Linked DNA regions of Homo sapiens. The protein of the gene in region 2 interacts with the protein of the main gene of each other region in a biochemical or structural test. Each region holds a gene or a part of one and is shown on either strand. Other genes may lie near its edges. The genes, in order: CIRSR and U2AF1.

Region 1 (7,291 bases), on a different chromosome or scaffold from region 2:
TAATAATATCTTAGTAGCAATGAACACACTTAGTGCTCAGATCGTGGTTTCTAAATATCATTCACCAATGAAAGGAATCTGGGTGCCTAAGAAAACTGGTTGATTCCAATGCTGCAGCAGGGAAAATAAAAGACGAGTCTGACCACCTTGTGGGACCAGAAGCAGCATTAAAAAAACAAAACAAAACAGGGTTGGTGCATGTTAAATGGATATACGAGCCAATCTAACAGAGCTCTCAATGGCCCAAACTGAAACAACTGGAGCAAGAAAATAAGTAACAATAGTATTATATTATAATCCAAAGAATTAAATAAACAGCCATGAGTCCATATTGATAGAAAATTAATAGTAACTAGATAAGGGAAATTCTTCCTTACAGAGGAATTCAAATTAATAAATGTAGAGGGAATGATAGAAATAGAAAATAACCATTAGAACATCACAGAAATATATAATTGATGCAAGCAAGATCTACTGATGAATACCAAAATTAGGCAAAAGTCCAAGGAGAAACAGGGTATTTGCAGGGCTTCAAATATTAATTAAAAGGGAAAATAGTAACTTTTTTTAAAGATAAAGAATAAACATGAACACTGTGATCTGTTTCAAACCTAGTTTTTCACCTCCACTCTGTTTTTATCCCTCTAACTCAACAACTGTTTCCTGAATACCCTCTCCATTTTCCAATATGTTTTTACTATTAATAATATAAAAATAAGGTTTTTGTTGTTGTTGTTTATCTGAGACGGAGTTTCGCTCTTGTTGGCCACGCTGGAGTTCAGTGGCGTGATCTTGGCTTAGCACAACTTCTGCCTCCCAGGTGCAAGCAATTCTCCTGCCTCAGCCTCCTGAGTAGCTGGGATTACAGGCATGCACTACCAGGTTTGGCTAACTTTGTATTTCTTAGTAGAAACGGGGTTTCTCCATGTTGGTCAGGCTGGTCTCGAACTCCCGACTTCAGGTGATCTGCCCGCCTTGGCCTCCCAAAGTGCTGGGATTACAGGCATGAGCCACTGCGCCCGACCAAATTAGGGTTTTTAAACAGTGATGCTATTGACATTTTGAACTAGATAGTTCTTTGTTGTGTGGAGCTGTCCTGTGCATTGTAGGCTGTTTTGCGGCATCCATAGTCTCCACCCACTAGATGTTGATAGCACCCCAGTCCGCAGTTGTGACAATCAAAACAATGTCTCCAAACATTGCCACGTTCCCTGGGCAGGGTGGCAGGGAGGGCGCAAAAAACGGCGCTCAGTTGAGAACCACCTATCTAAATCCTTATCATTCTTCAGAGTTCAGCTTAAATGTCACCTCTTCCATAAAGTCTTCTGTTAACCTAAATGGAATTATTATTTCCTATACTAACATGCTGTATTTTTAAAAGCAGTGTATGTTTTTAATATATCAGTTATTATATTTGGCCTTCAACTATATGTATTTGTATCTCTTACTAGGGTTTCTTAAGGATAAACTACACTTCACACACTTTTATAGGTCCCTATAATACCACTTATTGCCATGCATGGAGTACTCAATAAAAGTTACTAAGATTAAATAAAATTAGTGAGAAAGCTACTTAACTTTTATTTCTTTAACTTTCCTCTCAATATATTATATTTTAAAGAGTAGTAATAGTTTAGTATTAGTTTGCTAAATTCCATATTTTGATTGAAAACTGAACTTCATGGGCAATTTACCAAAACACCACTATTCAGTGGCTTAAGATTAACCAAGAGAAACCAGCTTCAGTGTTAGATCTGCATATACAAACACAATAGTTAAAGGCAGGTACCATGTTAGAAGACACCAATGAAGAACTCTAGCCACGAAACAGCTTTTAACAGAACAATGACATGCGTGTCAAATAAAGTCACTTTACCTTTCCTCTTGAAAGTATGCTGGGTATCTTTTGTGTTAAAGAAATAAGTCTGTAAGAGGTCTCAGCAGTTCAAGTGTAGACATGATTGTTCTTCTAAGCTTTGCCTAATTTGAGACTTGCTCAAAGACTGTATATGAGTCACGTGAATCTATATTTTACGTGAATTATGGGTAAAGCTGGAAAAAGTGGTCATCTACAGGTATGAGAGTAAAAGAGATAGCCCTCACGGAAAGACACGAATCCTATAATTGGGTATTTGATTCCAAAAAACTGACTTAATATATCATTCAGTAGGAAATTATTCCCATGAAATTGATAATTCTAGATATACTGGCATAACAGAATTTCTTACCTATTATCATATGATTCTTGTTCTTTAAGATATTGCTGCATCAATTCTTCTTGTTTCTTCTTATCATATGATATTTTCTGTTCTGCCATCCATACCTAGATTAGTGAAGTAAAAATGCAAATTAAATTGTTGGATTTAAATTAAACAAACTTTGCTTTTCTTGTATAATAAAATATAAAATGCAATTGTTTAAAGCAGGAGTGCCCAATCTTTTGGCTTCCCTGGGCCACAGAAAACACACTAATACACAGTGGAAGAAGAAGAATTGTCTTGGGCCACACAAAATATACTAACGATAGCCAACGAGCTAAAAAAAAGAAAAGGGCAAAAAAATCTCATAATGTTTTAAGAAAGTTTACAAATTTGTGTTGGGCCACATTCAAAGCCGTCCTGGGCCACATGTGACCCACAGGCCAAGAGCTGGATAAACTTGGCTGAAAGTTTACAACATAATCCAATTTGGCCGCAATTACATCATTACAAATTAACACCTGAAAAATCTGAAGTGTCTTGATACGAGTTCTTTTTATTTTTGAGACGAAGTCTGGCTATCACCCAGACTGGAGTGCAATGGCATGATCTTGGCTCACTGCAACCTCTTCCTCCCAGGTTGAAGTGATTTTCCTGCCTCAGCCTCCGGAGTAGCTGGGATTACAGGACCCTGCCACCACACCAAACTAATTTTTTTGTATTTTTAGTAGAGAAGGGGTTTCGCTATGTTGGCCAGGCTGGTCTTGAACTCCTGACCTCAGGCAATCCGCCTGCCTCAGCCTCCCCAAGTGCTGGGATTACAGGCGTAAGCCACTGTGCCCAGTCCACAGAATGCTTTATAGCAAGTTTGGGTTTTTTCAAAGCTGTATTTATAGTTTAAATTATATTAACTATATTCATAGGTAGTCAATGTTATACATTTCTTATATATCCTTCCAAGATGTTCTAATATATATATATATGCAAAAGAACATATACCACATTCTTCTTATATAAATGGTAACATATTTTACGCAAACACACACACGCACACAAAATATATATAAAATAAAATTATATATCATGGAGATCTGATATGGTTTGGCTGTGTCCCCACACAAATCTCATCTTGAATCATAGTTCCCATAATCCCCATGTGTCATGGGAGGGACCCGGTGGGATGTAATTGAATCATGGGGGCGGTTACACTTCATGCTGTTCTCATGACAGTGGGTGAGTTCTCACAAGATCTGATGGTTTTATAAGGGGTTTTTCCTCTTTTGCTCAGCACTTCTCCTCACTGCTACCATGTGAGGAAGGACATGTTTGCTTCCCCTTCTGCCATGATTGTAAGTTTCCTGTCAATTAAACCTCTTGCCTTTATAAATTACTCAGTCTTGGTCATTTCTTCATAGCAGCGTGAGAATAGACTAATATAGTAAATTGGTATAGGTAGAATGGAGGGCTGCTAAAAGGATACCCGAAAATGTGGAAGTGACTTTAGAACTGGGTAACAGGTGGAGGTTGGAACAGGAAAATGTGGGAAACTCTGGAACTTCCTAGAGAATTGGAGTGCTCAGAAAACAGGAAGATGTGGGAAAGTATGGAACTTCCTAGAGACTTGTTGAATGGCTTTAACCAAAATGCTGATAGTAATATGGACAATGAAGTCCAGGATGAGGTGGTCTCAGATGGAGATGGGAAACCTTTTGGGAAGTGGAGTAAAAGTCTCTCTTGCTAGGCAAAGAAACTGGTGGCATTTTGCCTCTGCCCCAGAGATCTGTGGAACTTTGAACTTGAGAGAGATGACTTAAGGTATCCGGTAGAAGAAATTTCTAAGCAGTAAAGCATTCAAGAGGAAGCACAGCATAAAATTCTGGAAATTCTGCAGCCTGACAATGGAATAGAGAAGAAAACCCTATTTTCTGGGGAGAAATTCAAGCCGGCTGCAGAAATTTGCATAAATAATGAGAAGTCGAATGTTAATCACCAAGACAAGGGAAAATGTCTCCAGGGTATGTCAGAGACCTTCACAGCAGCCCCTCCCATCATAGGCCTGGAGGCCTAGGAGAAGGAAAAAAGTGGTTTCCTGGGCCGGGTCCAGCCTCTCAACTGCTGGGTACAACCTTTGGTCTTCGTGCCCTGCATTCCAGCCACTCCAGCTATGGCCACTGCTTCAGAGAATGCAAGCCCCAAACCTTGGCAGCTTCCATGTGATGTTGGGCCTACACGTGCGCAGAAGGCAAGAACTGAGGTTTGGGAACCTCTGCCTAGATTTCAGAAGATGTATGGAAACACCTGGATGTTCAGGCAGATGTTTGCTGCAGGGGTGGAACCCTCTTGGAGAACCTCTACTAGGGCAGTGCGGAAGGGAAATGTGGGGTCGGAGCCCCCACACAGAGTCCCTACTGGGGTACTGCCTAGTGGAGCTGCGAGAAGAGGGCCTCTGTCCTCCAGACCCCAGTATAGTAGATCCACCAACTTGTACCATGTGCCTGGAAAAGCCACAGACACTCAACACCAGCCCATGAAAGCATCCAGGAGAGGGGTTATACCCTGCAAAGCCACAGGGGCAGAGCTGCCCAAGGCTTTGGGAGCCTACCTCTTGCATCAGCACACCCTGGATATGAGACATGAAGTCAAAGGAGATCCTTTTGGCACTTTAAGGTTTAATGACTGCCCTATTGGATTTTGGACTTGCATGGGGCCTGTAGCCCCTTTGTTTTGTCCAAATTGTCCCATTGGGGATGGGTGTATTTACCCAATGCCTGTACTCCTGTTGTATCCAGGAAGTCATTAACTTGCTTTTGATTTTACAGGCTCATAGGTGGAAGGGACTTGCCTTGTCTTACATGAGACTTTGGACTTAGACATTTGAGTTAATGCTGGAATGAGTTAAGACTTTGGTTGTTAAGGGCAGGATTGTGTTTTGAAATGTGAGGACATGAGATCTGGAAGGGGCTGGGGTGGAATGGTATGGTTTGGCTGTGTCCCCACCCAATCTCATCTTGAATTGTAGTTCCCATAATCCCCGCGTATCGTGGGAGGAACCCGATGGGAGGTAACTGAATAAAAGGGGCTGTTACCTCCATGGTGTTTTCGTGATAGTGAGTGAGTTCTCAGGAAATTTGATGGATAAAACCATCAGAAAAGGAGCTTTTCCTCTTTTGCTCGGCATTTCTCCTTGCTGTCACCATGTGAAGAAAGACGTGTTTGCTTCCCCTTCTGCCATGATTTTAAGTTTCCTGAGGCCTCCCCAGCCCTGCAGAACTGCAAGTCAATTAAAATTCTTTCCTTATAAATTACCCAGTCTCAGGTATTTCTTCATAGCAGCATGAGAACAGACTAATACTAATACAAGACTAATATGGATCAGTAAACAAACACTTTCTTCTTTTGGGTGGTAAAGTTGCATATTGTGGGACTATACCATAATTTATAATTTATTTATCTCATACTGTATAAATGGGCACTTAAGAAATTTCCAGTATTTTGCTATTAAAAATTTTGCTGCAAGAACTCAATACACAGGTAATTTCACACACATTTGACAGGGTTTTGAAAAGGATCAAGGCATGGCCAAGGAAAAAAACAGGGCAAGATATAACTGGCAGAGAGAATGACTCAGGCAAAGGCCCAGAGATATAAAATAGAACGTAAGTAGTTCAATATTACTAACATATAAAATCTTAGGTTGGGCTGAGGTGGGCAGATCACCTTAAGTCAGGAGTCTGAGACCAGCCTGGCCAACATGGTGAAACTCCATCTCTACTAAAAATACAAAAATTAGCCAGGCGTGGTGGTGTGTATCTGTAATCCCAGCTACTCGGAAAGCTGAGGCAGGAGAATCACCTAAGCCTGGGAGGTAGAGGCTTCAGTGAGCTGAGACTGCATCACTGCACTCTAGCCTGGGCAACAGAGTGAGCCTCCATCTCAAAAAATAAATAAATAAATAAATCTGAGGTGGGAGAATAGTAGGAGGGGAGAAGGAGAAAAACGATGGAGTGAGATTACTTGGACTCAATCCTGTAATATTTTAATAACAGGCTGAAAGAGATCAGATTTGTGCTTAAAAAAAGACAATTCTATCGAAATAACTTACATTCATACAATGGAATATTATTTAGCAATAAAAAGGAAAAAGTACCAATACATGCCATACCATGGATAAACTTCAAAAACATTATGGTGAGAGTAGCCAGTCAAAAAAGACCACAGATTGCATGATTCCATTTAAATGAATTTCCAGAATAGGCAAATCCACTAACAGAAAGTAGATTAGTGCTTGCCTAGGGCTGGAGAGAGGGAGAAGAGTTAAGGAAAAATGGGAGTGACTAACAGGTATGCAGGTTTCTTTTTTTTTGAGTCAGTGTCTCACTGTCACCCAGGCTGGAGTGCAGTGGCGCAATCTTGGCTCACTGCAATCTCCGCCTCCCGGGTTCATGCGATTCTCCCACCTCAGCCTCCCAAGTAGCTGGGATTACAAGCGCCCGCCACCACACCCAGCTAATTTTTGTACTTTTAGTAGAGACAGGGTTTCACCATGTTGGCCAGGCTGTCTTGAATTCCTGACCTCGGGTGATCCACCCACCTCAGCCACCCAAAGTGCAGAGATTACAGGTGTGAGCCACCATGCCCAGCGGGGGTTTCTTTTTGGGGTGATGACAAAGTTCTAAAATTGTTTGTGGTAATGATTACTTAACTCCATGAATACATTTTAAAAACCACTAAATTGTACATTTTACATGGGTGTTTGTATGATATGTAAATTTATCTCAGCAGAGCTGTTAAAATGAAAAATGACTATTCTGATGGCTGTGTAGTGAATGGATTTGAGAGGACTCAAGATTGGAGGCAGTAGAACCACTTAGGAAATGCAACAATATAGGTGAAAGATGATGAGGGTCTGAATTAAGACACAAGCAGCAGTGACAGAAAGGAAAGATGGATTCAAGAGATATTTGGAAGGTAAGACCAATAGCATTCAGTGATTGACTAGATAAAGGAGTGATGGGAAAAGGGATGAATCCTGAGCTTCTGGTTTGGGCAACAGGATGAGGGACTGTTTTACTATCTATATTTCTACCCATATG
Region 2 (5,406 bases):
CCCCCACAAGGAGCAGAGCAGGGCAGGAGAGCCTGGGTGACTCCCACCTAGAGCCAGGAGGTTTTTGAGGATGAGGTATGTGGACACGTGGGCATGGTTTGGGATGGCCTCACTTGGAACGTTTTGGTCTTAGGAATGAAATGCTCAGCCCCCAGCACTGACTTGTGGCAGGTGCCCCAGACCGGTCAGCTGGCTGTCACCATAGTCACACCACCAGCACGCGCCACCCGAGTAGCTTGGGGAAAGTAATACCAGAGTGTCTAAAGGCGGATCTGCACCGCAGGCTTCTGTGTCTCCCACAGCCATTGGCATAAGGAAACACGGACACGGACTACTGGCCCTCAGTGTGCCGTGTGAGCATCCACGCTCCCTCCCACGAACACATGGGGTTCTTGACACAAACTCGCAGGAACGAGAAGGTAACATGGGTCGGGCCCACCCACTGTGTCTCACCACAGATCAGCCTTCTTCCCAACATCAGTGCAGTCTACAGCGTGTCTACTGATTATAGCTAAGCACTTCTTCACTAACCAGTTAGAAAAGAAACCCCAAAAGGCTTTCCATGACAGCCTCGAGAAATTCCGGATTATTTAGCATGTAGATCTCACCTGGTATGTGTTTTATTTCATGCCCTAAGATAAAAAATATTATTTCATTTATACTCAAAGTGGTGGATGGATATTAATCTTTACCTCCAAGATGACTAGCAGATTTATAAAGAAAAAGAAATTTAAAGAACTTCCACAAGAAATAAGTTACACCAAGAATACTGTTATCACTACAAATTTTATTCAGAAACCCATCTTTGTATGTTTTTTTTTTTGTTGTTTTTTAAAAAAAATTCCCCTTATGAACTGGTTTGGTCAATCAACTACAACACTTTCTAGCAGACATAAGGTAAAAATGGCATGGCTCAGAATCGCCCAGATCTTTCACGATCTCTCGACCGCCTCCTGTCACGCTCCCGTCCGCCGCCACCTCCACCACCGCCACCGCCACCGCCACGACCACGGTCTCTAGACCGAGAACGACGCTCCCGGGATCGGGATCTTGATCTATGCCTGCAACCAAGGAAAATAAAGAAAACCGTGCCATCCAAACCACGGCACGCAGCACAGAACCACACCCACTCTCTCAACACGCGCAGCTCCTCAAGCCAACGGCACTGATAAGGAAAAACACTGCTGAAGAGACTGCACGCCGTGACTGAGACACACCCTGATTTCAGGTGTGAAAAGTTTCAGGAGAAAAAAATGTGCAACTTAGAAGTGAACAGGTGTAATACCTTGCATCTTCTGTCTTCTTCTAGAACCAACTCAAATGGTCACAGGAAATCATAATCAAAATGAGCTGGACACATACCATCTTCAACCCTCACTGACCCCACGCTTCAGGCGCTCATAGCTACTGTGTCCATCAGGTTTTTGGGCTGGGGAGAGCAGGCCTGTTTTTCTCTTATGCTTCTTGAATGCTGACAATAAAACAATCGCCACCCATCTATTTACTAGTCCATGTTTAACAGAAGAGGGATGAGAACCTCTCCAGACTCAGAACTCAATCGGTTCGATTCTGACGTCTTGATTTTCTCTGCTCTGTGACCTGTCGTACATTTAAATGTAGGATCAGAGAGATGTGACCGCTGGGCCTGATTCTGCCAGTGTCCCGAAGGGAGGATGCCAGCGATCCCAAGACATAATGAAATGCCCTAAAACCAACAAGCAAAACCAAAAGAAACCCCAGTGGACATGTGAAATATGTAAAGCAAAAGCTTGTCCAACCTGCAGCCCAACACAAATTCATCAACTTGCTTAAAACATTATGAGATTTTTTTTGCAATTAAAAAAAAAGTTATCAGCTATCATTAGTGTATTTTATTTGTGACCCAAGACAATTCTTCTTCCAATGTGTCCCAGGGAAGCCATCCCTGATCTAAAGGAGGTTACAACATCTATTCTTCTTCTTCGTAATATCTGGGAGAATAAACTGCATGCCCACTTTCACCACGAGCCTCATGTCCGCGGCTGCCCAGCTAACCGCCCTCTTGCTTGATTACTAAGATCTGATCTCTACTTGAGAAGTTGGATAATGAAGTTACCTGTGTGCAGGTGAATATTCTTCTCCAAAGAGGACATTTGGATATTTAAAAATATGTACTATGTTCTAAGCACTGCCTTTTAAAAAACAGAAACGACACCTATGCCAAAATTTTTTTTTTGGAAGGGGGAGGGTTGTGAGGGGAGAAAGAAGCCACTGAGCTTAACAACGGGCACAGGAATACTCACTTCTTGCGACGGCGGCCATACAGCTCCCGCCGCAGCTCTCTGGAAATGGGCTTCAAATGCATGAAGTTGCAGAAGCCGCCTCGTGTGCATTCTCTGTGGGTGGGTTGGAAGGAGACATTTACTACCTCGTGTGCACACGGCCCCGAACTGTGCTCAGTCACGTCACTGGCCACTCCTCACTCACCCCATCTCATACTGACGGCAGCAGGCTTCTCTGAAGTCCGTCACGGGTGACAGCTCGGCGTGGATCGGCTGTCCATTAAACCAACGGTTATTCAAGTCAATCACAGCCTTTTCCGCATCTTCCTCACGGCGAAACTGAAAAGACAAAAACAGAAGTGCTTGCCATCCACGCTTTAATAAGACTTTCTCAATTACCAATCCAAGTATATCAGAGAGAGATATACACACTCAGGTATAGTAAGGTGGAATAGTATTACAGGATAATTGAAAAATCCTTTATTTTCAATGAGATTAACTTCAAGATAGTCCAAGATTTTGCCAAATGTTGCCTTCATTTTTCAAATTCAACTGGTTAAAGGAGCAAATATGGCTGTGTAGGCAAATAAAGTTTTATTCACTAAAAAAGAAAAAAGAAACCAAACATGTGAGTAAACCTAACTTTTCCTTAGTCCACACAGCTTCTAAACCAACAGGTACTAAATATTCTACACTGAAATAACGATGGCTGTGGTGTACGGTCCGTCCTTCAGTTCTGCTGGCTGGGCGCACGTGTGGGCTGGCCACCGCCACATATGACGCAGCTGGTAGGCGCCGAGCCAGTGCACCTGAGCCCTGCTGTGCGCCTGAGCATCCAGGATCTCAAGGTGCATGGCGACAGGCACCCCATCCTCTGTCGGCCTTGGCCCCGGCACACTAAGCGGCTGCACCACTGTCTCGCTTTCGCCTGTTGGCCTTGGCCCTGGCACACTAAGCGGCCACGCCGCCGTCTCGCCCTGGCTCCTACCTTGACGTACACGTTCCCCACCAGGTGGTCTCCCAGGTTGTCACAGACGTTCATCTCCTCTACTTCCCCATACTTCTCCTCCATTTCTGTAAAAACCTCCTGAAGGGAGACCACAGTGGTTTAAGACTCGTTATACATTACAAAGTGTCATTAGATATAACTCATGTATGTTTATTAGCAGAGAAACATTTTAAATCCTTCCAAACAGATACAGAAGATCAACAGGTCTATCAGTCACAGAGTTCAGTTCTCTCACCTCAAAAAACTCATCATAGTGTTCCTGCATCTCCACATCGCTCACGGCACCTGCAAACAACAGAAATCTTGCTGGTTAGAACATGTTAACCGAGTGAACTCTTGTGTTTAAACTCAAACTGCTACAGTAACACACACGAGATTATCTAGAGAAAAGCCTGGCAGAGCTGCACTCTGCAGGAGCACTCAGGAGACTGAGCCACATGGCTACTTGTGAATGGTGTCAAGTGTGGTGAGATTTTAAATGTCCCCATGACAGTCTCGATTCTGGCTACTAAGGTGTTAAAATCACAACCAGCTTTAATCAGCATCAAAAGGGCCACATTTTCAGAAACTGTGAGGAAAAAGTTGACTCTCAAACTACAAATTTTTTTTTTACACCCACAAGATGCAGTCTGGCTCTGTCGCCCAGGCTGGAGTGCAGTGGCACCATCTCAGCTCACTGCAACCTCCACCTCTGGGGTTCAAGCGATTCTCCTGTCTCAGCCTCTGGAGTTGCTGGGACTACAGGCGACTGCCACCACGCCCGGCTAATTTTTTTTTTTTTTTTTAATTTTTAGTACAGACAGGGTTTCACCACGTTGGCAGGCTGGTCTTGAACTCCTGACCTCAAGTGATCCGCCTGCCTTGGCCTCCCAAAGTGCTGTGATTACAGGCGTGAGACACCGCACCTGGGCTCAAACTAAGAAATATTAAAATTTTCTTCCTTTTAAGATTTAGAGTAAAGGCCAAATAAGCACACTGATGTCTTCCCCTCTTCTATAAGTTTAAAATGAAACCTGAAAGCAGGGTCGATGATTAAAAGCTGATGTTCCTAACTAGTCTTTTATGGACTGCCAGCCATGGTATGCTCTCAAATTCTTCTGATGTGATTAAAATCCAAGCAACCATGAAGATTCAGTAGGACAGTTCACGCAACCTTACGGTATTGTGGACGCCCTCAAGTAAAGGGAATGTTACAATGTTTTGCTGATGAAAGCATTCTTTTTTTTTTCTTTTTTTTGAGACGGAGTCTCACTCTGTCGCCCAGGCTGGAGTGCGGTGGCGCAATCTCGGCTCACTGCAACCTCCGCTTCCTGGGCTCATGCGATTCTCTGCCTCAGCCTCCTGAGTAGCTGGGATTACAGGCGCCCACAACCACGCCCGGCTAATTTTTGTATTTTTAATAGAGATGGGGTTTCACCATCTTGGCCAGGCTAGTCTTGAACTCCTGACCTCGTGATCCACCTGCCTCGGCCTCCCAAAGTGCTGGGATTACAGGTGTGAGCCGCCGTGCCCGGCGCAAGTATTCTTAAGTTTTATATTCCCAAACTATTTTCATCAGTTTATTCTTCATAATTCACATGTATTAGGTAAAATCATGTCTGTTGCGTGGGTAAATTTGGCAAATTTACACTCTATCCCCATCATCATTCTATCAAATTTAATTAATTTTTTTTTCTTTTGAGATGGAGTCTCTGTCCACTCCAGGCTGGAGTGCAGTGGCGTGATCTTGGCTCACTGCAACCTCCACTTCCTAGGTTCAAGCAATTCTCCTTCCTCAGCCTCCCAAGTAGGTGGGACTACAGGCGCGCACCACCATGCCTGGCTAATTTTTGTATTTTTAGTAGAGACGGGGTTTCACCATGTTGGCCAGGCTGGTCTCAACCTCCTGACCTCACGTGATCTGCTTACCTCAGCCTCCCAAAGTGCTGAGATTACAGGCATGAGCCACTGCCCCCGGCCCACTCTATCAAATTCTAGAGTTCTCTAAACCTGAGAAATCACAGAGCTGGTGTATCAACAAACATGTTCCAATCAGCTAGATTAGGGGCTGGCAAAAGCCTGACTGGTTTCCAGATTGGGCCGGCTGCCTTAGCCTGTGCACCCAACGTGGGCATCTGACTGCTGGCACACGGGTCT

Evidence for each region.
Region 1: the proteins of U2AF1 (region 2) and CIRSR form a complex in vitro, tested with the Homo sapiens proteins (one study listed by BioGRID).

What each region holds. Positions count from the first base shown.
Region 1 is NC_000002.12:174,385,457-174,392,747, forward strand, and holds part of CIRSR (corepressor interacting with RBPJ 1), read right to left. Parts: intron 2,324-7,291; coding exon 2,229-2,323; intron 1-2,228. UniProt on the Homo sapiens protein: May modulate splice site selection during alternative splicing of pre-mRNAs. Regulates transcription and acts as corepressor for RBPJ. Recruits RBPJ to the Sin3-histone deacetylase complex (HDAC). Required for RBPJ-mediated repression of transcription.
Region 2 is NC_000021.9:43,092,189-43,097,594, forward strand, and holds the end of U2AF1 (splicing factor U2AF 35 kDa subunit), read right to left. Parts: intron 3,556-5,406; coding exon 3,506-3,555; intron 3,349-3,505; coding exon 3,250-3,348; intron 2,601-3,249; coding exon 2,467-2,600; intron 2,376-2,466; coding exon 2,283-2,375; intron 1,062-2,282; coding exon 914-1,061; 3' UTR 768-913; downstream 1-767. UniProt on the Homo sapiens protein: Plays a critical role in both constitutive and enhancer-dependent splicing by mediating protein-protein interactions and protein-RNA interactions required for accurate 3'-splice site selection. Recruits U2 snRNP to the branch point.